Homo sapiens: one gene and its partners. The protein of the gene in region 1 purifies or fractionates together with the protein of each later gene. This does not show direct contact. Each region holds a gene or a part of one and is shown in the gene's direction. Other genes may lie near its edges.

Evidence for each region.
Region 2: the proteins of TRMT61B (region 1) and GLS purify together in Homo sapiens (affinity purification with mass spectrometry; 2 studies listed by BioGRID and IntAct, with this or other methods). This does not show direct contact.
Region 3: the proteins of TRMT61B (region 1) and ACAD9 purify together in Homo sapiens (co-immunoprecipitation; 3 studies listed by BioGRID and IntAct, with this or other methods). This does not show direct contact.
Region 4: the proteins of TRMT61B (region 1) and PDK1 purify together in Homo sapiens (affinity purification with mass spectrometry; 2 studies listed by BioGRID and IntAct, with this or other methods). This does not show direct contact.
Region 5: the proteins of TRMT61B (region 1) and ACAT1 purify together in Homo sapiens (co-immunoprecipitation; one large-scale study listed by IntAct). This does not show direct contact.
Region 6: the proteins of TRMT61B (region 1) and ACSF3 purify together in Homo sapiens (affinity purification with mass spectrometry; 2 studies listed by BioGRID and IntAct, with this or other methods). This does not show direct contact.
Region 7: the proteins of TRMT61B (region 1) and MIPEP purify together in Homo sapiens (co-immunoprecipitation; 2 studies listed by BioGRID and IntAct, with this or other methods). This does not show direct contact.

What each region holds. Positions count from the first base shown.
Region 1 is NC_000002.12:28,849,321-28,853,309, reverse strand, and holds the end of TRMT61B (tRNA (adenine(58)-N(1))-methyltransferase, mitochondrial precursor), read left to right. Parts: intron 1-810; coding exon 811-902; intron 903-2,011; coding exon 2,012-2,238; intron 2,239-2,699; exon of another isoform or gene 2,700-2,904; coding exon 2,905-2,982; exon of another isoform or gene 2,983-3,067; coding exon 3,068-3,111; 3' UTR 3,112-3,368; coding exon of another isoform or gene 3,369-3,460; 3' UTR 3,461-3,489; downstream 3,490-3,989. Other genes in the region: SPDYA (speedy protein A), read right to left, coding at 3,369-3,460.
Region 2 is NC_000002.12:190,883,821-190,887,320, forward strand, and holds part of GLS (glutaminase kidney isoform, mitochondrial isoform 1 precursor), read left to right. Parts: intron 1-3,500. UniProt on the Homo sapiens protein: Catalyzes the first reaction in the primary pathway for the renal catabolism of glutamine. Plays a role in maintaining acid-base homeostasis. Regulates the levels of the neurotransmitter glutamate, the main excitatory neurotransmitter in the brain.
Region 3 is NC_000003.12:128,882,620-128,886,119, forward strand, and holds part of ACAD9 (complex I assembly factor ACAD9, mitochondrial), read left to right. Parts: intron 1-2,033; coding exon 2,034-2,127; intron 2,128-3,500. UniProt on the Homo sapiens protein: As part of the MCIA complex, primarily participates in the assembly of the mitochondrial complex I and therefore plays a role in oxidative phosphorylation.
Region 4 is NC_000002.12:172,559,090-172,562,589, forward strand, and holds part of PDK1 ([Pyruvate dehydrogenase (acetyl-transferring)] kinase isozyme 1, mitochondrial isoform 2 precursor), read left to right. Parts: intron 1-3,130; coding exon 3,131-3,202; intron 3,203-3,500. UniProt on the Homo sapiens protein: Kinase that plays a key role in regulation of glucose and fatty acid metabolism and homeostasis via phosphorylation of the pyruvate dehydrogenase subunits PDHA1 and PDHA2.
Region 5 is NC_000011.10:108,138,567-108,142,066, forward strand, and holds part of ACAT1 (acetyl-CoA acetyltransferase, mitochondrial isoform b precursor), read left to right. Parts: intron 1-331; coding exon 332-475; intron 476-1,498; coding exon 1,499-1,649; intron 1,650-3,038; coding exon 3,039-3,134; intron 3,135-3,500. UniProt on the Homo sapiens protein: This is one of the enzymes that catalyzes the last step of the mitochondrial beta-oxidation pathway, an aerobic process breaking down fatty acids into acetyl-CoA.
Region 6 is NC_000016.10:89,100,352-89,103,851, forward strand, and holds part of ACSF3 (malonate--CoA ligase ACSF3, mitochondrial isoform 1 precursor), read left to right. Parts: intron 1-310; 5' UTR 311-330; coding exon 331-996; intron 997-2,252; coding exon 2,253-2,408; intron 2,409-3,500. UniProt on the Homo sapiens protein: Catalyzes the initial reaction in intramitochondrial fatty acid synthesis, by activating malonate and methylmalonate, but not acetate, into their respective CoA thioester. May have some preference toward very-long-chain substrates.
Region 7 is NC_000013.11:23,837,401-23,840,900, reverse strand, and holds part of MIPEP (mitochondrial intermediate peptidase), read left to right. Parts: intron 1-1,174; coding exon 1,175-1,252; intron 1,253-3,144; coding exon 3,145-3,349; intron 3,350-3,500. UniProt on the Homo sapiens protein: Cleaves proteins, imported into the mitochondrion, to their mature size.

The sequences.
Region 1 (3,989 bases):
CAGCTACTCGAGAGGCTGAGGTGGGAGGGTTGCTTGAGTTCAGGAGGTGGAAGTTGCAGCGAGGTGACATTGTGCCACTGTACTCCAGCCTGGTCAACAGAGCGAGACCCTGTCTCAAAAAAAAAAAAAGGAAATTCACATTGTCTCAAATGTTTAAATTTTTCATGTTGTAATGGCGTGTTTTACACTTGGCAATATTGATAATACAGGCATACAGGAATCTTTCTTTGGTTATATTCATATATACATACATAGCCAAATCAATATTTCCATATTAATATGCAAAGTACAAGACATATCATTATGATTTTTCAGTATCATCAAGTACTATGACAAATTGTTTTTTCTTCCCTGAGACAGGATCTCACTCTTGCCCAGGGTGGAGTATGATGGCACAGTCATAGGTCACTACAGCCTCGAACTCCTAGGCTCCAGTGACCCTCCCACCTCAGCTTCCTGAATAGCTGGTACTACGGGCTTGTGCCACTGCATCCAGCTACTTTTTTTTTTTTTCAATAGAGTCAGAGTCTCGCTATGTTGCCTGGGCTGTTCTCAAACTCGGCCTCAAATGGATCCTCTTGCCTCAGCCTCCCAAAGTGTTGGGATTACAGGCAGAAGCCACATTGCCCAACTGTATAATAATTAACATACCCTTTTGGGAGTGGTAAAATGATAGTTAATAATACTACCTTCTAAAAAATGAAATACTTTGATTGCTGTCCAAAAGTGTGTCATTTCACCACAATAAGAAAACTTATGCTTTATTTAAACGGAATCAGACTGATCCAGTTCTCTTTTTCCCCCACACAGGTAGCTTTGGATATGTTAAATCCTCATGTTACTTTGCCTGTTTTTTACCCACATCTTAAGCATGGTGGTGTATGTGCTGTATATGTAGTAAAGTGAGTAATATAACTGTTTTTCTTTGTAATGTAACTTTTAAGTGCACTTTTGCTTAAGTATCAAACTAAATTTTTTTTTTTTTTTTTTTTTTTTTGAGACAGAAAAAAACTCTGTCACCCAGGTTGGAGTGTAGTGGTATGATCTCAGCTCACTGCAACCTCCACCTCCCCTGTTCAAGCAATTATCCTGCCTCAGCCTCCCAAGTAGCTGGGGTTACAGGCGCCCGCCACCACGCCCGGCTGATTTTTTCTATTTTTGGTAGAGAAGGGGTTTCACCATGTTGGCCAGGCTGGTCTTGAACTCCTGACTTCAGGTGATCTGCTCACCTGGTCTCCCAAGGTGCTGGGCTTACAGGCTTGAGCCACCACGCCCAGCCAAAATATTCATTTTGTAACTGAATAAAGTGTATATGGCATCTTATACAACTGTTTTAAAATGACAAGTCCCAAGTTCATTTATATTACTGTATATTTATTTAGTGTTTTTTTTTTTTAAACTTTTTTCGTTTTTTTTTTTTTTTTTTTTTTTGAGACAGAGTCTCGCTTTGTCACCCAGGCTGGGGTGCAGTGTCATGATCTCAGCTCGCTGCAACCTCCGCCTCCTGGGTTCAAGTGATTCTCCTGCCTCAGCCTCCTGAGTAGCTGGGATTACAGGTATGCGCCACCACACCCGGCTAATTTTTGTATTTTAGTGGAGACAGGGTTTCACCATGTTGGCCAGGCTGGTCTGGAACTCCTGACCTCAAGTGATCTGCCCCCCTCAGCCTCCCAAAGTGCTGGGATTACAGGCGTGACCCACGCCCAACCCTATATTACTGTTTAAATCATTTTTTACATAAATAGTAATATAAGATGCATATTTTCTTCTGACAATCTGGAAGAAATGTTTTAAAAGTATAATGTGAACAGTAATGTTAAATTATGGTCTCTGTGTTTGTTTACTTAGAATTTTGTGAAGGTACTTTTTATGCCTCCTAACTTGCATATTTAAACCCTCTCCTGCCTTAATTTAACTATGGTATTTAAATGTGGGCAAGAGGTATAGGGAACTTAAATAAATATAATGTTATTATTTTAGTAGAAATGTAAATTTTTCACTTTTCTGAAAGCATCACACAGGTTATTGAACTTTTAGATGGAATTCGCACCTGTGAACTTGCTCTTTCATGTGAAAAGATAAGCGAGGTCATTGTCAGAGATTGGTTGGTTTGCCTTGCAAAACAGAAAAATGGAATTTTAGCTCAAAAAGTAGAATCTAAAATCAACACAGATGTACAACTAGATTCTCAAGAGAAAATTGGAGTTAAAGGTGAGCTGTTTCAAGAGGATGACCATGGTGAGCTTCAGTTTTACTTTATGCATGCAGTAATGAATGGAGAATGAGTTCCTGAGTATACTGACCAATAGATTATAAAAATATTCCTCAGCAATTTTCTATAGAAAAGTGTGATATTTATTCTGTTAAGATGTATAAGGCACAGAATAATGACTTTTCCTGCCTTTTACTTAAAACTCTGATACCTTTGAAGAATTGAGCTTTTTATAATATTCATATTTTACTTGTCACAAGGAGCTTGGTTTGTGAAATAATTTAAATGTATTAAGGATGTTTTATATTTAGATCACTGATTATTAATGGGACCTGATAGGCAAATAGCTAATATTCCAAAAAGCAACTTCTAAGATGCTGCTGGAATTCTTGAAAGAACTGAGTTTAGGTCTTTGTCATATATACACATTATTTAGGCCATGAACAAGTTTTCAAGTATCAGTTGATTTATGATATAGGCTTATCCATTTGGTTATAAAATCATATGTTTATTACATAATCATTGACAAATAGTTTCTGTATAATAACTGGCAGAGTAGCTCTAAAACATATGCAAGGAAATAAATAAAGAAAAAACTTACAATAAAGAGAGTAACTCATATTTTAACAGTTTTGTGAAAAAAATAGAAAATATTTTATGTAGCTTATAGTACATATATTTTTTTACAACAGAAGAATCGCATTCTGATTTTCCATATGGATCATTTCCCTATGTTGCTAGACCAGTACACTGGCAACCTGGTCATACAGGTGAGTAATGTTTTCAGAACATATTAAATGGTGTTTTTTCTTTTAATTAATATAATGACTTTATGTTTTTCTTCTCTTAAATTAGCTTTTCTTGTCAAGTTGAGGAAGGTCAAACCACAACTTAACTGAGTACTCCAGATGACAGTAACTGACTTGAAGATGGAAAAATATCAAAATAGAACTTTATATTGAAAATCACTGCTTCCATAGATTGGCATTTTTAGCTATTACTATGACTTATATAACTTATACATATAATTTTGAAAATAACAACTAAAAGATGTATAACATAGCAAAACTGCTTAAACATCCCATTTTGACACTTGTCTTGCAGTTAGTTTGACATTTTGTAGTTAATGATTCCAAATTGGTTTAGTTGGGCCATCTCATTCTTCACTTCCTGTAAACCACTCCATAGATTTGTCTTTCTTCAAGAAATTAGTTTTCTTTCCTTTATTTGATTGATGGTCATTGACTACTGAAATAAAATATGCATTTTAAGATAAATTTTATGTATCTGTCCATTTTAAATACATCTTATAATGGCTTGTATATGTCTTAAAAAATAATAAGGAAATCTGGGCTACAGTAAATAATGGGGGGAAACTTAAGAATGATATAATCACCTTAAAAATTGTAACAAAAGATGTAACAGGCTCTTGAATCTCTTTTATCCCCTCAGAATCTTTTTAACCAGCTTGAAAGAACATTAGAATTATTCAGTGTTACTACACAAATTAAATGTTTGGGGGCTGGGCACAGTGGCTCACGCCTTTGGGAGGCCAAGGCAGGCAGATCACCTGAGGTCAGGAGTTCGAGACTAGTCTGGCCAACATGGCAAAACCTTGTCTCTACTAAAAATACAAAAATTAGCTGGTTGTGGTGGCGGGCACCTGTAATCCCAGCTACTTGGGAAGCTGAGGCAGGAGAATCGCTTAAACCTGGAAGGCGAAGGTTGCAGTGAGCTGCGACTGTGCCACTGCACTCCAGCCTGGGTGACAGGGCGA
Region 2 (3,500 bases), about 160 Mb from region 1:
GATATCTGCGTTTCCTCCTTTCCTTGGTCCTGAGTTTATATTTTATTTACTTTATATTCTGGAAGGAGGCGTGATATAAGCAAGTTACTTTACCTTTTTTTCACAAACTCTTTGAACTAATGTCACTTTAGACTATGCTGTTTCCATCACGCAACTTTAGTGTGGTTTAGGATACGAACGTCTTAATATCACATAGAAAAATTTAATGATCTTTGCTCAGTTTTGTCTTTAGTGATCTTATTTAATTTTGTTATGGTTCATTCTGTTATCTTGAAAACCAACTTTGCTTGCCTCTCTTCGTTTTCAAAATTGTTCTCTCTTCTTTCCTAGTTCTTTTTGAATTTCCTCACTGGGTAAAAACCCTGAGGCTGAGGCCTTTGTCCCTTTCCCACTTGTCTGCCTTCTCAACAGCGTATCCCTTCTTTCAGCTTTGACTCTCATCTTTGTGTAGGTAATACTTCACCTCTTAATCCAAAGCTCTGTTCTTAAATTTGTCGCCACATATTCAATGACTTCAAATTTTAAGTCTGTACCCTGATATTCATTCTTTTCTCCAATTCAACCTATTTTGCGTACTGTTATGAGAGTAATTTTAGAGTTTTAATTTGAAAATAGCACTCTCTTCCAGAAAACCAGCAGGATCTGGAATGAGCATTATATTAAAGTCACAAACTATGTTATGGTTTATGCCAGCACTTGCCCATATGGACATTTTTATCATACTTTTCTCTGTTAAGCTGGTTATACTTATTTCCATAAAGTCCAGAAGTATGTATCCTATCTTAGTGAATGGTCCCTAGGAAGAGTCAGAGGGATAGAGGTAAGGGGCATTATTAAGTTTTTTTATTTGGACATTTATTTTTTAATGAGAAAGGAAAAGAGATACATAACAGAAATTGGGCTGGAAAAATACCAGCATATGTATGTTGTTAGAAAATAGATAATTCATACAGGATGCAATATTGAAAGTATTCTGTTAAAACAACAATGAGGTCACTTTCCCCTTCTCAGATTGGCAGATGTTAAATCAAGTAATTGGGAAAATAGGAACTCTAGCATTGCTAGTAGAAGTATAAATTATTAGTTCAGTTACTTTAGGCAGTTTGGTAGTTTCTGTTAAAAACTGCATAGCTGTGATGTGGTAGTTGGATGTTTGCATATCTACATGAAGTCGTGGCATTCAGAAATATTTGTAATTACACAAATAAGCATGCTTTAAAATATATTTATATTTAAAAGTAAAAATGCAAGCAAAAATGATTTCAGCTAGCTTTAGTTAGTATGGATTTATGTTTTGATAGTTCAGCTTTATGTTTTGATAGTTATGGACAATGAAGGGCAAAGAAAATCATCGAGGTGTATACTCTGAAAATTGAATTTTTTTTTTTTGAGATGGAGTCTCGCTCTGTCACACAGGCTGGAGTGCAGTGGTGTGATCTCGGTTCACTGCAACCTCTGCCTCCCGGGTTCAAGCCATTCTCCTGCCTCAGCCTCCCGAGTAGCTGGGATTACAGGCACCCGCCACCATGCGTGGCTAATTTTTGTTTTTAGTAGAGATGGGGTTTCACCATGTTGGCTGGGCTGGTCTTGAACTCCTGACCTCAGATGATCTGCCCGCTGTGGCCACCCAAAGTGCTGGGATTACAGGCGTGAGCCACCGCACCTGGTCTGAACATTGAATTTCAAAGTAAGATGAAATGCTTATGAATTTCAGCGAACATTGAATTGGGTAGATTGAACAATACTAGTAAGGAAGTTGAGTTAGTATTTGGCAGATATAAATATTAAGTTTTAGAACTGAATGACAAAACCTCTGTTAAAATGGGGGCACATGTTTTTATGATCCTTCAGTATTGCATTTGGTTTTAATTTTAAAAGCTAACATATTTACAATTCACTTAAGCTAAAATCAAGGTGGAAAGTATGTTTAATTTTTTCCTTTGGGCTTCTCAGGCAGCCCCTTAGTTATTTTTGATTTCTTCATTATTAAAAATTTTTTTCTAGGTGATGATTATCAGTGAGTTTTAGTTTTTTTTTTTAAATTTTATTTTTATTTATTTATTTATTTTTGAGGTGGAGTCTCACTCTGTCACCCAGGTTGGAGTGCAGTGGTGTGATCTCAGCTCAATGCAACCTCTGCCTCCTGGGTTCAAGTCGTTCTCCTGCCTCAGCCCCCCATGTAGCTGGGACTTACAGGCACGTGCCACCACACCTGGCTAATTTTTGTATTTTTAGTAAGATGGGAATTTACCATGTCAGCCAGGATGGTCTCGACCTCCTGACCTTGTGATACGCCTGCTTCGGCCTCCCAAATTGCTGGGATTACAGGCGTGAGCCACTGCACCCAGCCCAGTTTTGTTTTTTTAAAAGCAAGTGAAAAAGGTACCAATAACTATATGTCATAACATTTTTGTGACCTAATATTTATATTGAAATGTGCATCAGTCATTGATAACTTTGTCCATGATCTGTAATTAACAAACTCATGCTGTTAATTTATAGTTTTATTAATATTTGGATGAAATTCACTGAAAGAACAAGAATTAGATTCTGAGGGGTTTAGTCTCCTGGACTTTTAGCTGCATATTTCCAGACCTTACTCTTTTATAGAGAAGTCTACCTACCTCAAAGTCAGCTAATCCATGAAATGACTACCAAATAGAATTCAGCCTTTTTTATGAGGCAATATGTAGGCCAGCTAAAAGGGAGGGGGGGCACTATTTTAGTCCAAAGATAAATGTCACTTTGAAAGAAATTTGCTGAAGATATTTGTGGGTTTCTTTGAGTTTTAAAAAGTTATTTAAAAGAAATCAGGCTGGGCGTGGTGGCTCATGCCCGTAATCCCAGCACTTTGGGAGGCCAAAGCAGGTGGATCAGTTGAGGTCAGGAGCTTGAGACCAGCCTGGCCAACATGGTGAAACACTGTCTCTACTAAAAATACAAAAATTAGCCAGGAGTGGTGGCGGGCACCTGTAATCCCAGCTACTCGGGAGGCTGAGGCAGGAGAATCGCTTGAACCCAGGAGGTGGAGGTTGCAGTGAGCCGAGATCATGCCGCTGCACTCCAGCCTGGGTGACAGAGCGAGACTCTTGTCTCAAAAAAAAAAAAAAAAAGAAAGTAATAGTAAAAGGCTGTACTACTTCCTTCTTGTGATATTTGAAATGAAGAAAAATTATGACCATATAAGCTGAAAGCCTAATTATAGAATTTGTGTGAGGGAGCTCAATCATGTTAAATCCTATATAAATTAAGGTTATATTTTATAGTTGCCTGTCTGTGCCTTTTCACCTTTAAGTCATTTGCTAGTAAGAGAAATGCTTAAGAAAGGTGAGTAAACAGATGTATTTATAAAAATAGTTATTAATTACTGATATCTCTCAGTGAGGTACATAGCTTTCACATAGAGATACTGTTAGTACAGTTTTACCCTGAAATCTACTCAGGTGCAAAATTGCTTTGGTTATGAAACACATTACTTGTGAGTCATCACTGCACTTAGT
Region 3 (3,500 bases), on another chromosome or scaffold:
GAACTGCTGCAGGGATGGGTGGGAAGTTGAGTGGGTGGGATTTGGGTGCCTGTTTTCCCTATCAGCAGTCTCAGTCAGAGCCGCCTGCTTCTGTCTGTTTTACATATTTGGTTTCTGCACTAGATTTCTTTGAATAACAGGTTCCACTTTTTTAGATAATTTACAAACTGTTTATTGCAATTGAACTCTCCTCCCCTAAGGCATTGACCTGATTTGATAACATCAGGATCTTTCTCCCACGCCCCTGCAATCTCTCCTGTGTGGCAGGTTTTCTGTGGTTGTACCTGAAGGCCAATTAGTTGCCAGGCAGTCTTATCTGGCCTGCCCACTGGTACCAGAATGATCTCTAACACAGCCCATTGCACAAGACCCAAGTGTCAGTGAGCCTCTGTGTTCAGTGAAGGAGACTGAGCTTTGATATAAAAGGCTGCAGAGTGATGGAGCCATCAGCTTGTTTTTTTTTTTTTTTCTTGTTTTTTTTTTCCTTGAGACAGTGTCTTACTCTGTTGCCCACCCTGGAGTGCAGTGGTGCAATCACAGCTCACTGCAGCCTCAACCTCCCCAGGCTCAGGGGATCCTCCCACCTCAGCCTCCTGAGTAGCTGGAACTACAGGCGTGTGCAACCACGCCCAGGCTGGTTTTGAACTCCTGGGCTTTAAGCAATCCCCCTGCGTCAGCTTCCCAAAGGACTAGGATTACAGGCAGTAGCCACTGCAACCAGCTAAGCTTGTTTTTTTCTTTTTCTTTTCTTTTTTTTTTATGGAGTCTCACTCTGTCACCTAGGCTGGAGTGCAATGGCGCAATCTCGGCTCACTGCAACCTCCACCTCCCGGGTTCAAGCAATTCTCCTGCCTCAGCCTCCTGAGTAGCTGGGATTACAGGCGCGTGCTACCAAGCCCGTGTAATTTTTGTATTTTTAGTAGAAACGGGGTTTCACCATGTTGGTCAGGCTGGTCTCAAACTCCTGACCTCGTGATCCGCCCGCCTCGGCCTCCCAAAGTGCTGGGATTACAGGCGTGAGCCACCGTGCCTGGCCTCCAACCTTTTTTTTTTTCTATACCACCTTCAGGGTGGTTTTGGAATGGATGGAGGCAGGGATTCCTTTAAGTTGGCTGTCACTTTTAGTTAGGGACTCACCTATAAGCCTGTGGTCCTGGGCCCAGAGAGGAGAAAGCAGTGCGAGCATATTGATAGAGTAGAGAAATCTGTTGGCTGATTAGCTGTACAAGGTCTGAGGAGAAGGTTGAGGTCTCCCCAAGACTTCTCTAGAACACTTGGTGAGAGGCGCCATGAGGACAGGTGATGCTTGGGCTTATAGCTCTGACTCAGGACATCACTGCTCAACAGCCTGAAGCCCACATCCAAAGCTCATGTCATGCTGGCAATTGAAGGGGTAGCAGAGCCCAAAAGTCCAGAGGGGCTCAGCACAGGGAGCAGATGTCTGTGAGCAGGAGAGACAGCGGCTGTAGGGATCGATGAGACTTGGTAAGCATGATGTGCTCTTGTCAGCATAGCATCTTTGAGCTCACACAATAATTGATGTAGAATTGTCCATTTCAGTAAGGAGTTTCCACATCCACTATCTTCCACGATTCTCACAAGGGCCTTGAGTAAATATTACCTGCATGTTATGGGTGAGAAAGGGGTAGTTTAGAGAGCTGAAGGGATTTGGTGAAGGCCACATAATGAGTAAGCCTGAAATCAAGGACCAGACCCCCAGGCTTCTAAATGTTAGTCTTGGGCTCCTTGTTTCATGGGACTATTATCATCCCTTGTACTGAGAAGGAAAACTGATGAAAATCGGGAAGAACCTATTTGAACAGGGGAGGGAGATGGATGTGGGTGGTGGAGCCTGCACATAGTTTCTGTATCTCAGGAACCTTGTGAGGTTTGCTTTCCAGTTCCTTCAGTACGTCATGTCCCGCTGGCCAGGGTGGAGTGGAGCACATGTTTTTCCTTCCCTTTTAACTGATATTTCCGTGATGGGAGTGTGCTAAAAATTAAATTTTTTAGAAAATATTTACTATTTTTAGAAAGAAGTTTTCCCATTTCCAGAAGTTAGCCAAGATGAACTTAATGAAATCAATCAGTTCTTGGGACCCGTGGAAAAATTCTTCACTGAAGAGGGTATGTATGGTTTTCTTTACCATTGCCGATTTCCATTGTAAGGGCTATTTGGTTGATATTTATATTAGAAGTGACATACATAGGAGAAGTCTTCTTGAGGGAGAAATGGTTTCCACTCATAATATTTTGCTTTAGGTTTCATCCCTATTGCCATTTAATTAAAAAACATCCAGTTAAATGCTTCTCATTGTATTTGTGGTTCAGGAGCACTTTAAACATTTCCATACTGTTCCAGGTCAACACTTCCATAAAGCTATAATAAAAATGAATAACTAAAAAAATTAGATGGCAAAAAGCCAAGGCCACACACCATACAAGCCCATGGAGCATGTGTTGGTTGTTGTGGCAGTGTACAGTTGCTCTTAGTGTTTCTAAAGGTTGAGTTTCAATTTCTGTACTTTGGTAATTGTAAACAAAGAGTGATTTGTGGACCAGCCACAGTTTGGCACCTGCATGGTGAGGCAGCATTTGACCTCAGGTCCCTCTCTCAGAGCTGTTGGCCGGTCCTCCAGCCAGGGCCTTGGTGGAGAGTTCAGTGATGGTGGATGGACAGCAGGTCTTCCCTAATAGTAGGATCCTGGAGAGCTTTTGTTTATATGAATTTTATCTATCAATATTTGCCATCTTAGGGGTTATTTTATTTTTATTTTACTTTATTTTTTTGAGAAAGGGCCTAGCTCTGTTGCTCAGACTGGAGTGTGGTGGTACCATCTCATCTCACCACCACCTCCATCTTTCAGGCTCAAACAGTCCCCCAACTTCAGCCTCCTGAGTTGCTGGAACTACAGGTGCGCACCCCCATGCCCAGCTAATTTTTTTGTATTTTTCATAGAGACAGGTTCTCACTATATTGCCCAGGCTGGTCTCTACTCCTAGGCTCAAGTGATCCTCCCACCTTGGCCTCCCAAAGGGCTGGGATTACAGGTGTGAGCCACCATGCCTAGCCCCTCTTAGAAATTAAAACTGAGAAATTTAAAATATACTGTGGGGCTGGGTGCAGTGGCTCACGCCTGTAATCCCAGCACTTTGGGAGGCCAACGGGGACAGATCACCTGAGGTCTGGAGTTCAAGACCAGCGTAGCCAACATGGTGAAACCCTGTCTCTACTAAAAATACAAAAATTGGCCGGGCATGGTGGCGGGTGCCTGTAATCCCGGCTATTCAGGAGGCTGAAGCAGGCGAATTGCTTGAACCCAGGAGGCAGAGATTGTAGTGAGCCAACATTGCACCACTGCACTCCAGCCTGGGTGACAGAGTGTGACTTTGTCTAAAAAAAAAAAATAAAATATACTGTGTTCATTTGTTTAAAAATAATAAATCCATTACATGTTAACATAATATTTTTAATGAAAAATATTTTGTTTTTGTTTTTC
Region 4 (3,500 bases), about 140 Mb from region 1:
AGGCACGTGCCACCACGCCCAGCTAATTTTTGTATTTTTAGTAGAGACAGGGTTTCACCATGTTGGCCAGGATGATCTCGGTCTCCTGAACTCGTGATCCACCCACCTTGGCCTCCCAAAGTGCTGGGATTACAGACGTGAGCCACCGTGCCCGACCAGAGTCTTAAGGTAGTAGCAGTATTCTTTTTTTGGCTGGGGGCAGGTGGGGGCAATGTATTTGGGCTTGTGCCCTGAATCGTGGACTCCACAACTTCTTGATTTTGAGAAAGCCAGTCAAAACTGCACTGAAATACAGATGCTAAATTTAGGATTTATGTTAGTATATCTTCAAGGATATTATAAGAAAAAATGTCTGCAATTTGTTGATGACTGGGTATTTATGTATATTGCCTTTAATCCCTTCAACAACCTTGCACAGTGGGTATGATTCTCTCCATTTTATTCATTGTTATTATTTTTATTTACTTTTTGTTTTTGAAATGGAATCTTGCTCTGTTGCCCAGGCTGGAGTGCAATGGCATGATCTTGGCTCACTGCAACCTCTGCCTCCTGGGTTCAAGTGATTCTCCTGCCTCAGCCTCCAGAGTAGCTGGGATTACAGGCACCTGCCACCATGCCTGGCTAATTTTTGTATTTTTAGTAGAAATAGAGGTTTCACCATGTTGGCCAGGCTGGTCTCAAGCTCCTGACCTCAGGTGATCCTCCCACCTTGGCTTCCCAAAGTGCTGGGATTACAGGCATGAGCCACCACTCCTGGCCTACTTATTTTTTTGAGACAGGTTCTTACTCTGTCACCCAGGTTGGAGTGCAGTGGTGATCACAGCTCAGCTCACTGCAACCTCCACCTCCCTGGCTCAGGTGATCCTCCCACCTCGGCCTCCTGAGTAGCTGGGACCACAAGTGCATGCCACACCCAGCTAATTTTTGTATTTTTTAGCAGAGATGGGGTTTTTCCATGTTGCCTACGCTGGCCTCAAACTCCGGAGGTCAAGGTATTTGCCCACCTGGGCCTCTCAAAGTGCAGGGATTATGGGCATGAGCCATTGTGTCTAGCCTGTTTATTATTTTTTAAATTAATTTATTTTCTTTTTAGAGACAGGGTCTCCATCACCCAGGCTAGAGTGCAGTAGTGTGATCATGGCTCACTGCAGTCTTGACCTCCTGGGGTCAAGAGATTCTCCTGCTAAGGCAGCTGCCTCCCGAGCAGCTGGGACCACAGCCATGCGCCACCATACCTGACCAATTCTTTTATTTTTTTGTAGAGATGGGGGTCTCACTTTTTTGCCCAGGCAGGTTGTGAACTCCTGGGCTCAAGCAGTCCTCTCACCTTGGCTTCACAAAGTGTTGGTATTACAGACATGAGCCACCGCACCTGGCAGGTTAACTCTGTACAGATGAGGATGCTGAGGCACATAAAGGTTAAATCTTTTGCGTAAGACAGTACCATTGATAGTGGAGTTGGGATTCAAACCCCCATTTGTCCATCTCTGCTATACCGTGCTATAGTCAGAATGATGAAATATATGAAAGGATATATGTATTTTTAATAAACTGTGTTTATTGAAGGGTATCTTTTTATAAATTACAAAAGTTAAAATGTTTATTTTTCTGTTTTAAAACAATTAGAAGTTTTTGGAATTGTGTAGAAAAAGTGTGATCTCTTCCCAAAGATAAGTAGAGATGTTAAGGGTATACACTCATGGAGCCACCTATATACAGCCTTCATTAATGTTACTGATTTAAAAGTGTTGTTCTTTTAAGCACTGTATGCTTCAAACAAATGAGTTGCCCAGAGTTAAGTCTTAAATGGAAAAGGTTTAGCTGCAGGGCATTTCCCAGTTATGATTCATGGAGATTCAAGTTTTCTTTTTGTAAGCATTATAGCGTATGGGAGAAGTTGATCTAATCGCAATTTAAAAAAGCAAAATATGACTGCTATATATATGATAATCAGATGCTATCTAGTCCAAGTATGGAATAGTTATAAGTGTGGATTAAATGGGAAGCATTTGTTTAGTAATTATGATGGGATATAATGGAGAAAATATAATATTCCATGGAAGATTTTTCCTGTTTTTAAAAAATTCTTCATTAGAAGTAGAATATGCTGCTTTTTGAAGCTTATCAGTCATGAGGTCTGATCGGTGCCTGTTGTAGGTACTCAAATATCTCTTGGATGGAGAGCGTAGTTGTTCTTGCCAATTAAGAGGAAATTAAGGGTTAAAGCAAAGCAGCAGCTGCTATCAGAATCCCTTAACTTTGGAATGCAGTAAGACATATTGCTTGTCAGAAACAGCTTTCCAAACCAACAGATGGAATTACAGGTTTTTAAAGCACTTCCATTGCTCCTAGATGCCTGCTAAGTTAGGACAGTTGCAGATAAAGTGCTTACAGCCAAGTGGAGCAGATCCCTTACACTGTCGAAGAAAGTAATTCAGTGGTAGCAAGTTATTTTTAGCTCTGGCCCCGCAGTGCCATTGTACTTGCCTGCAAGACCATCAGAAAATCATTTGGCCTTCTCTATTTTGCTCATTCCTTAACAGATGCTTTGATACTTCGAATTGTTAGATAAATTTAAAATGTACATTTTTATGACTTTTGTGTTTTTTGTTCAGTTTAAAAGAACCATGTAGATTATAGGCTTTCAATAAATACTTGTTAGTTGGACATAAATATGTAAAATTAAGGTTTTAAAGCACAGATATTTAAGATACAGTCTTAGAGCAAGAGAGGCTGTCCTCCTTTTACTGATAATAAGACAAATTAAGTCATTTGCCCAAGATCACATAGTTACTGGTGACAGATCTCAGCATAATCAGTATATATACTGTAATGTACAGTGGTAAATTAAAAAAAAATTAAAAGCCATTTTAGAATGTAGAACTCGGAAAATCTTAAAATTCTTAAATTTGACCTTTGCTTTTAGGAGAAAATGTGCACCTTCTACCATTCATTCCCAGCACTTTGCTTGAATGTGCATGGGTGTAAAAATTATACTTCAACCATAATTTATAGCAGTATTCTAAATTAAAAATTATAAAATGCTAAAAATAGCTTTTGAGCTAATTTTCATGATATTGAACTTTCAGAATATAAAAGAACAAACTTATCCTATTGATCTGCATTTTAGGTATATCCAGAGTCTTCAGGAGCTTCTTGATTTTAAGGACAAAAGTGCTGAGGATGCTAAAGCTATTTATGAGTAAGTTCACTATTTTGACCCTATTCTTAAACCTATTATTAGGTCACTTGGGGGAAATTGGTTAACTTTTAGGTTTCTACTACTTTAGAACATGTGATATATGTGACTGTAGCAGCCCATACAGGCAGGACAAATAACAATCAGCAAATTTGACTAGGCATAAGAAATGCTTCGTGTTCCTCTTTAACAAAAGACAAAGTTCAGGTGTGATGATCAGTGGAAATGTAGGTGTGGCCTCAGTGCCAGTTGGACTGTTCACCTGGAGGGTGCATGCTCCTTCTAATGGACAACCACCTTC
Region 5 (3,500 bases), on another chromosome or scaffold:
TTGTATTTTTAGTAGAGACGGGGTTTCACCATGTTGGCCAGGCGGATCCAGAACTCCTGACCTCAAGTGATCCACCTGCCTCAGCCTTCTAAAGTGCTGGGATTACAGGTGTGAGCCACTGCACCCAGCCAACTTATTTCTCATTATATTATTTAACACCATTTCTTTTCATCAGGGTGAAGTGGTAAAGAGGGTACTTCCTGTATTCACTGTGTAACAAATGTTTAATAAATGCATGTAGAATACTTGTTTGGTGGTAGCTGTATAAAGGGTGTCATGGGTTTGCAAAATATTTGTATTAACATTGGGTTTTTCTGGTGTTTCTGCGCAGGATGTGATGGTGGCAGGTGGGATGGAGAGCATGTCCAATGTTCCATATGTAATGAACAGAGGATCAACACCATATGGTGGGGTAAAGCTTGAAGATTTGATTGTAAAAGACGGGCTAACTGATGTCTACAATAAAATTCATATGGTAAATGTGATTTTTAGTGGATAAATGCTATCTAATGTCCAATACTGTTTGATTTTTCTTACTCTATGTACTTTACAAACTGAACTGAAAGATGGGCTCTATAAATGTTGATTTTAGCCGTGTACTTTTGGAGAATATTTTTGTATGCCTATTGCATCGGCATGGCTCAGTCATTAAAGAAATTTTCCCACATTTAAATAGGGTAATTTCTGACGCTTAGCTGGCAACTGCTTGGCTAATTCAAGTATGTGAAGATAAGACATGAGTGGCTGGGTGCGGTGGCTCTGGCCTGTAATCCCAGCACTTTGGGAGGCCGAGGCAGGTGGATCACCTGGGGTCAGGAGTTTGAGACCGGCTTGGCCAATGTGGTGAGACCCTGTCTCTATTAAAAATACAAAAAAATTAGCCAGGCGTGGTGGTGGTGTCTGTAATCCCAGCTACTCAGGAGGCTGAGGCAGGAGAATTGCTTGAACCCGGGAGGTGGAGGTTGCATTGAGCCAAGATTGCACCACTGCACTCCAGCCTGGGTGACAAGAGTCAAACTCCGTCTCAAAAAAAGACATGAGTGAAAAGTGACCTGGTATAGAAAGAAATATATATGTGTGTGTGTATATATATATGTTATTATTATTTTTTTGAAATGGTGTCTTGCTCTGTTGCCCAGGCTGGAGTGCAGTGGCACAGTCTTAGCTCACTGCAGCCTCCGCCTCCTGGGCTCAAGCAATTCTCCTGCCTCAGGCTCCCGAGTAGCTGGGACTACAGGCACGTGCCCCCATGCCCGGCTAATTTTTAGTAGAGACGGGGTTTCACCATGTTGGCCAGGATGGTCTTGATCTCCTGACCTCATGATCTGCCTGCCTTGGCCCCCCAAAGTGCTGGGATTACAGGCATGAGCCACCACCTCCGGCCTAAGAAATATATTTTAAGAAACGTTAACTATTAAACACTATAAGTTAGGCAAAGTTAATAGATATTTTCTAAATTATGCAAAGTTAACTTTAAAATATTTCAACTTTTTATCAGGGCAGCTGTGCTGAGAATACAGCAAAGAAGCTGAATATTGCACGAAATGAACAGGACGCTTATGCTATTAATTCTTATACCAGAAGTAAAGCAGCATGGGAAGCTGGGAAATTTGGAAATGAAGTTATTCCTGTCACAGTTACAGTAAAAGGTAGAGATAATGTTCCAAAAAGGATGAATAGACTTTTCATGTTGCTGAATGTTTTATGCTTAAGTTTTAAATTAGGACATTATCTTGGTTCATTTCAACTGCTTATGGTTAATAAAAAGTGAAGAGTTGCCAGTTCAGAGAGAATATAAATCTACCCAACTTAATGTCAGATTTCAATCCATTTATAAGATCCCTGAGTATTACTTTAAATTTGAGAAATTTATTAGAACTTTTTCCTGTGACAGTCAATACGGTATTTTAAATTGAAAAGGGATTTACTAGAAGGTTACCGGGAGTGCCTCCAAGAACTGAAGGATGAACAGTAGCAACCATTCAGCTCTGGGAACTTCAGGGATTGGAACTGGGTGTTCACTACTACTAAGACATGCTCTCTTGGCTTCTCACACCTGCAGGCTTTTGTGCTTTATTCTCTCAGCCTTTCTAAAGTTGCTGCCTCTACCTCTAGGGTCACATATATAGGGTTCTCAAAAAGGAGAGACTTTCTCACCAGTTCCAGCAGAATAAATCCACAATGAAGACTCATTAACTTGCTTTAGGTTACAATTCTATTCCAGGAATGATTACTGTGCTCTAGGTGACAGAATACTAGAGCTTATCTAGTGTAGGTCAGACAGCTGCCTCTGGGGTCAGGAGAGTGGGGTCTGTGATCATAGAAGGGAGTTGAGGAAGAAAAGGGGACATGGAGGTGTAGAAGATTTAAATTTTGTGGCTGGGTGCAGTGGCTCACACCTGTAATCCCAACACTTTGGGAGGCCGAGGTGGGAGGATTGCTTGAGCCCAGGAGTTTGAGACCAGCCTGGGCAACGAAGTGAGACTTGGCCTCCACACAAAAAAATTAAAAATTAGCTGGGTATAGCAGCACACGCCTGTAGTCCCAGCTACTAGGGAATCCAAGGCAGGAGGATCAATTGAGCCCAGGAGTCCGAGGCTGCAGTGAGCTAGGTTTGTAGCATTGCACTCTATTGGGAGACTGTGCAAGACCATTTCAAACAAACAAAATTAGCTGGCTGTGGTGGCTCCCACCTGTAGTCCCAGCTACTTGGGAGGCTGAGGTGGGAGGATCACATGGGCCTGGAGAGGATGAGGTAAACTGTGATCATGCCAGCCTAAGCAGGAGAGGGAAACCCTGCCTCAAAAAAAAAAAAAAAAAAAAAAAAAATTGTGAAGCTACTTTGTAAGTTTCTCTTTTTAAGATGGTAACATAATAGAGGTTATAGTTAACAGATTCTAGATGAGTGTTTACTTGGGATGGTTTAAGTGAAGCAGGGATACAAAGGGAGGCACAGACTACTAGGCATCTTGTACAACAGTTGCTTGCTGAATGACTACTTGTTTTGAGCGATTTTACTTAAAATATTTTTATTTTAGGTCAACCAGATGTAGTGGTGAAAGAAGATGAAGAATATAAACGTGTTGATTTTAGCAAAGTTCCAAAGCTGAAGACAGTTTTCCAGAAAGAAAATGGTTAGTGTTAAGAAATGAAGCATAAGAAAAAATTGAGCCAGTATACCATATCTAGTTCTTAGAATTGCCTAAGGATTTTGAAAAATTCTAGAAAACATCTAGATGTTATTTAACATTTTCAGTATATCAGGCTCATGTAAAATTGTTTTGGTAGTTTATACCTTCAATATATAAATCCCAGGGAAGATATGTATAACATGACTATAGAATTCAGTTTTTCATATGTAGCAGTCTATGATAGGGTCTTCATTGGCATTGAAAAAAACAGATTTATTGATATAATTTATATACCATAATAACATTCTTCTATTTAAAGTGGTTTGGTAGTTTTTAACATTCATTTATATTTATCTCCAGGTGATTCTA
Region 6 (3,500 bases), on another chromosome or scaffold:
TTAAGTGTGTTGAATTTTATATGCTTCTCCTTGGTTTTACCTAGTTTATTTCATTGTTTAGAATTTTGTGTGGTTTGGGAATCCTTAAACTCATGAAGTGAAATAGAAAGCTGAGATGCTGGGCACGTACGGAACGTTCCAGCAGTGTGGGTGAGAAAGGCTGGACGTGGCCTGTCTGGTGCGCTGCCTCATGACTGAAGGTGCAGCAGGCGTACCTGGCTGGGTACTGGGGAGGTGTTTTAAATCCTGTCTTGGCCACGTTTGGATGGGACAGTTGGGCACTCACGTCCTGTGCCTTGCCTTTCTCCAGCTCGGCCGCCTGTCAGTGCAATGCTGCCCCATGTGGTGCTCACCTTCCGGCGCCTGGGCTGCGCCTTGGCGTCCTGCCGGCTGGCGCCTGCGAGACACAGAGGAAGTGGTCTTCTGCACACAGCCCCAGTGGCCCGCTCGGACAGGAGCGCCCCGGTGTTCACCCGTGCCCTGGCCTTTGGGGACAGAATCGCCCTGGTTGACCAGCACGGCCGCCACACGTACAGGGAGCTTTATTCCCGCAGCCTTCGCCTGTCCCAGGAGATCTGCAGGCTCTGCGGGTGTGTCGGCGGGGACCTCCGGGAGGAGAGGGTCTCCTTCCTATGCGCTAACGATGCCTCCTACGTCGTGGCCCAGTGGGCGTCATGGATGAGTGGCGGTGTGGCAGTCCCCCTCTACAGGAAGCATCCCGCGGCCCAGCTGGAGTATGTCATCTGCGACTCCCAGAGCTCTGTGGTCCTTGCCAGCCAGGAGTACCTGGAGCTCCTGAGCCCGGTGGTCAGGAAGCTGGGGGTCCCGCTGCTGCCGCTCACACCAGCCATCTACACTGGAGCAGTAGAGGAACCGGCAGAGGTCCCGGTCCCAGAGCAGGGATGGAGGAACAAGGGCGCCATGATCATCTACACCAGTGGGACCACGGGGAGGCCCAAGGGCGTGCTGAGCACGCACCAAAACATCAGGGCTGTGGTGAGTGCCGCCTGGCGCCGTGATGGTTTCGGTGACCGCACAGCACTCCGGGTGGGCTCCGGGCCAGAAGCACATCTTTTCATTCGCTTTTCTGTGGAGTCATTCACAGTTGTCACCATCCTGCAGACCCGTGTGAGATACAGGGACGCAGGCCCTCGGGGTGTGGCCGCTGGCCTCACTGGCCACGCAGGACGGCTCTGGGAGCGTCCAGGTGTAGAGGGATTGAGGGGCCGCCGAGTGACCCTGCCAGGACCATGCGGCATGAGGTCAGAAGGGACCACTCACTGCCTGTGATGCTGAGGGGCTTTTCGGAGGCCAGCCACGTGTTAGGATGCGTGGTCAGGACCCCACATACACCCGGGTCTTACTCGTTTTTTGTGTGTCCTGTGACCTCAGTCACATCTTCACAGAACTCTCCAACCACATCACTTACCTGGCATTTGTACAGTGTCATAACGTCTCCTATGCACTTGAAGCAATCAAGTAAAAATGAAAACCAAAAGCCAGGAAGGGGAAGGCAGGAAGTGTACCCCACGGAGTCGTGGGCTGACGAGGCGCCATGAGCACACAGCAGGCTGGGCCCTGGGTGGCCTGCGCCGTCACTCCTGGAAGCGGCGCGCCTGTCGGGAGGGACGGGCTCTGGACTCCTCTGTCCTTGCTGAGGGGAGTGACATGCACATGTGCTTCTCCCTGGAGCCTGTGCAGGCAGCAGGCAGTGTCCTCCGTGAGATTGGACAGAGGATTCAGTGGGCCGTGCCTCACGCTGCTTCTCAGTAAGAGCTGAGGGTGTGCTCTGGAGCCTGGCCTGGGTTCTGTCCCGGCTGAGCAGGTGACGATAATTCACGAATCGGCAGAGCTCTGTGTGGGCAGTGCTGTCACCTGAGCCAGTGGTTGGGCTGGGAGTCGATTCCAGCCTGAATGGCGCTGGGTCCCTGAGTCCCAGGCTTGGGCAGGGGCGGAGCTCTGTCGACCTGGTGTCTGCAGAGCCACTCCCCGACCTTCTAAATTCCCTAAAGCCTCTGGCTGTGTGTGGCGCTGTCCTCTGTCCCCAGGGTAAGTGAGTGACCCAGCAGATCTGCTGTGGTTTTGTCGTCATCTTGAGAGGCTGCTAAAGGGGAGCAACAAAGAGCCAGCCTTCTCCTTCCCCTTCCTCAGTGGGGAGGCCCAGAGCTCCTTTCCGTGAGCCCGAGGTCTGTGTGTGCTGTTGCGGGCCACAGTCTTGCTCTTGCTCTCAGCTGTGCTCTCGTCCCCTGCAGGTGACCGGGCTGGTCCACAAGTGGGCATGGACCAAAGACGACGTGATCCTCCACGTGCTCCCGCTGCACCACGTCCATGGTGTGGTCAACGCGCTGCTCTGTCCTCTCTGGGTGGGAGCCACCTGTGTGATGATGCCTGAGTTCAGCCCTCAGCAGGTGAGTTGGGGTCAGGGCTCTCGGTTGCACCCTCAGACTAGGCGCCTTTCCCCTGTCGGGGCCAGGGCTCTCAGCCGCGCCCTCAGCCTAAGCGCCTTTCGCTGGTTGGGGTCAGGGCTCTCGGCCGCGCCCTCAGACTAGGCATCTTTTCCTGGTGTGCAGTCGCCCCTATCCACAGGGGACGTGCCAATGCCGAGACCCTGGGTAGCATGGAACCCTGTACCTACGATGCTTTTTGCTATACATACGTACCTATGATAAAGCTTAATTTATAAGTTAGGCACAGTAAGAGGTTAACAATAACAGAACAGTTATAACCATGTACTGTAATCAAGTTATGTGAAAGTGCTCTCTCTCTTCAAAATACCTTCCGGTACTGTGCTCGTCTGTTGTGAGACTGCAGTGGGCCACGCGTCATTGAAACCGTGAATAGTGAGACTGGATGAGCGGAGGTGACTGTACAGGCCCTGCTGCCCGCGAGCTCCTGCGGCTGCGGCGAATGCTCACGCGCTTGGTTTAAAATAATGCGAGTTTGTTCTTACATGCTTGGAGGCCAGGATTCTGAGACGAGTCTTGCGGAGCTGATGCTGGGTGTGGTAGGGCTGCTCCGTCAGGAGGCTCCAGGGCAAAGTCCGTTCCTGCCTCTTGCAGCTCTGGAGGCCGCCTGTGCCCTTGGCTCCAGCTGCTTCACGTCCAGCTCTGCTTCTGCAGGCACACGGCCTTCTCTCCGTAGTCAGGGCTCCCTCGGCTTCCCTTTGTGCAGCCTATGCGGATATTCCAAGATCATCTCCCATCTTGAGGTCCTTCGCTTCATCCACCTGCAGTTCCCACCACTGCGAGAGGTGACACATTCGGGGTGTAGGGCGTAGGGCGTGACCCTTTGAGCTATGATGTGGCCACTGTGGCAGCCCTCGGTTACTCCAGAGTACTGGCCCAGCTGGAGAGCTGCTTGCTGCGGAGGGTTACTTTGGAGTATTGGCCCAGCTGAAGGGCTGCTGTGGAGTCTCTGTCTCCCCTCTCTGCATGGCTTCCTCTGTAGCGTCTCCCTTGGAGCAGGCAGGGAGGGAAGGACGCGGTGCTGGTCACACAGAG
Region 7 (3,500 bases), on another chromosome or scaffold:
CTGATTTATTTAACTTCTTTGATAATAACTTCAAACCTAGCAATCATCTTTCTCCTGTGAAGGCCCACTTTATATGAGGCATGAATATTTTAAATTTTTCCTCATAGGATTTGAGGCTTTGTTGACCTGTGTGTGTCACTAAGGCTTTGTATTGTTTTGTTGTTTGATTTTTGCTAGCATGCTTACCACACTGCTTTCTTCACTATATTTTAAGAAATGTAAACAGTCTCATTGTCTCTCGGCCACGTCTTGTGAGTGGAGAGTAGGTGTGGTGGTGGGATTGAAAGGAGAGTCAGGGTGGGAGGACGTTCATCACTGCATTGATTTACTTCACTATCTGTATTACAAACTTCCAAAAAAGATAGAGATTGATAAAATGCTGAGATATAATAAAAAGAAAAATTTATAAGAGGAGACTGAGAGGACAAAATGCGGGTGATGAAGGGTTTCCCCAGAACTGCAGAATGTGCACTCCACCGGGGTCCAGCACTGTTGTCAGTTGCATTCACTTCTGTATCCTCAGTGTCTTGAAGAGTTCCTGGCACCAAGTAGGTGCTTAACAGATGTTTGATGAACAATAAATATATACTTGCAGGTAGTTTTAAAGCACAAAATCGGGGTTCTCTTTGATGGAATCATTAAATTCTGAAAGAACAAAGAAGGCAAGATGGAGAGTAGTGATTGAGTCTCTCCTATAAGCTATGTCTCTTGGAGAGGGGATAGATAGTAATATTGCTGATTTTTAACTCAAGCTGGGAGCTGCATTGTGGTGTTTTCAAATTCAAGGGTTATAATTTGCTTGGGCGTATATCACGACATTCCAGGATTTGAAGGAAAAATAATTTGCTCCTAAAATTGTCCAGCCAGCACTTCTTCCCAGCTCTTGTGGGTGGTTAGTAAAGGTATTGTAGAGGATAGGCAGTCAGGACAAAAGGCCCTCATGAGGAGGATTTCCTGTCCTGGACACAGAATTCCAAAACCAAAATCATTCAAGAGATGGAGCAGAAGAGGATGCGGGGAAAAGAGAATCTATCTCGAGATAATGTGGGGTGTAGAATGTAATTAAAATGTCTATATGTGTGGCTATGGATGTTTAATATACAGATTCTTGTGTTAGGGATTTTAGAGAATCAGATGGCCTCATTTACCACCAAATTTAAATTTTTTTTTCTAGGCTGTTGTTCATGAATCTGAAGGATTGTTGGGGTACATTTACTGTGATTTTTTTCAGCGAGCAGACAAACCACATCAGGTGATCCTTTCTTTATAAACTGGTCTCTCTAGAACCGATCGGCATTTCATTTGTATTGATGTGAACTTTGTATCATTTTTTAAATTCCATGACATTTAAAAGTTACTAATGATGGTTACCAAATATATACATTTGAAATTAAGATAGAATTTTAAAATTAAAAAGTTTATGGAAATAATTACATCAGTCTATATTTGTCACTTTTATCTGGGTCATGGTATTAATTATAGTAACAATGACAACTGACATTTTATGAATCCTTATTTGTGCCAAACAGTGCACTGAGCCCGTTATACACATCAGCCTTTTAATGTTCGCCTCACCCTTTTGACTAGTTACTCACATTATGAGGAAACTGAAGCCATAGAGGTTAAGCTACTTGGCCAGAAGTGCTAGGACTTGAAGGCATACATCCTGAGCAGATCCCCAACTTTTAACTCTTTTCCATACTCGACAATGAACCTATTCTAAAACTGCGGAAGATACTCCATGTGGAAACCTTACCAACCACCAAGTAGCTCCTTATGTGGAAGACTTGAGGCAGCTCATCTCCTTTTCTTTAGCATTGGCCGACTTTGACAGCCAGTCAGCTTTAGCAGTTTCATGTAGCTTGATGGGAAATGTCAAGAGTTTAGGTTATAAGTTATAACAGAAATAATGTACCTTATGTTTGAATAGTGATTCACAATTTCCAAAGCACAGATTTTAACAGATGTGAGCTTATGAATTCTGGACAGCCACTGTGGGATTTGACAAGGAAGCATTTTAGAGATGAGGCTTGCAGAAGCAAATTATTTTCCGAGATGATTTGTCTAGTAGGTGTGAAAGGTAGGAACAGGGTGCAGGTCACCAGACTCTGAGGCCAGTGTTCTTCCTCTTTGCTTAAATGGGTGGGTGGTGGAGACTCAACTTTAGTGATTAGGAGCCCTGGCTCCTAATAGTCAGCCTGGGTTCAGATCCAAGGTGTGGCAGTTCTAGCTAGGTGTCCTTGGACATGTTATTTAATAATCCTAAGACTAGTTTTAGTTTTATCATCTGAAAAGTGAGATACCTGCTACATAGGGTTGTTGTGGAGAATAAGTGATACAGTGTATGTGAGTCTCAGTGTAGTGCCTGTTTCAGAGTAAGTTATTCTGGCTCCGGATCCCTTGCTTTACACTAGTTTAGATCCCATCTCGTTCAAGTGATAAAAGTCAAGAGAGGCTGGGCGCGGTGGCTCATGCCTGTAATCCCAGAACTTTAGGAGGCTGAGGCTGGCAGATCACTTCAGTCCAGGAGTTCAAGACCAGCCCTGGCAACATAGTAAGACTCCATCTGTACAAAAAAAAATCTAAAAATTTAGCTGGGTGTGGTGGAGCACACCTGTAGTCCCAGCCAATCAGTAGGCCAAAGCAGGAGGATGGCTTGAGCCCAGGAGGTCCAGGCTGCAGTGAACTGCGATCACAACACTGCACTCCAGCCTGGGCAACAGAGCAAGACCCTATCTTAAAAAAAGAAAAAAAAATAGCCAAGAGACATGGAAAGTACCTACTAGTTCATTATCTGACACATAGTAGGGACTCAGAATAAATGTTAGTGTCCCTTCGTAAGTTCTTTGCTGACTTTGTTTCCAGCTTCTGGCACAGCATCATTTCAATGCATGTTTTGGGACCAAAGTAATGAGTTAATCCATAGAAACTGAATGTGTTCTTGATGTTTTAAAAAATTAAAATTTTAGCAGAATAAAAAATGTCAAGAAAAGGTGTATATATGTAAATAGATAGAATAAGAATATAATTAAGTTAAAGTTTGCACTCACACATTTTTGGTGAAATTTTATATTCATTAAGACTGTTTTACTCTTCACATTACCAAATACTTTCTTTTCCTTTTATGTTTTCTGATTCTTAAAGGATTGCCATTTCACTATCCGTGGAGGCAGACTAAAGGAAGATGGAGACTATCAACTCCCAGTTGTAGTTCTTATGCTGAATCTTCCCCGTTCCTCAAGGAGTTCTCCAACTTTGCTAACTCCTAGCATGATGGAAAATCTTTTCCATGAAATGGGACATGCCATGCATTCAATGCTAGGACGTACTCGTTACCAACACGTCACTGGTGAGCCATGAGGAGGGCTTTTATTTACTACAGTCCTTTACAAACATACATTTTCTTTGAATTGGGAAAGGGGCTTTTTATTTGGAAAATGTGATCATTTTACCGTGTCCTGTGGTCTTTATCTCAGATTGCCTCATCCTGCCCTCCCCAT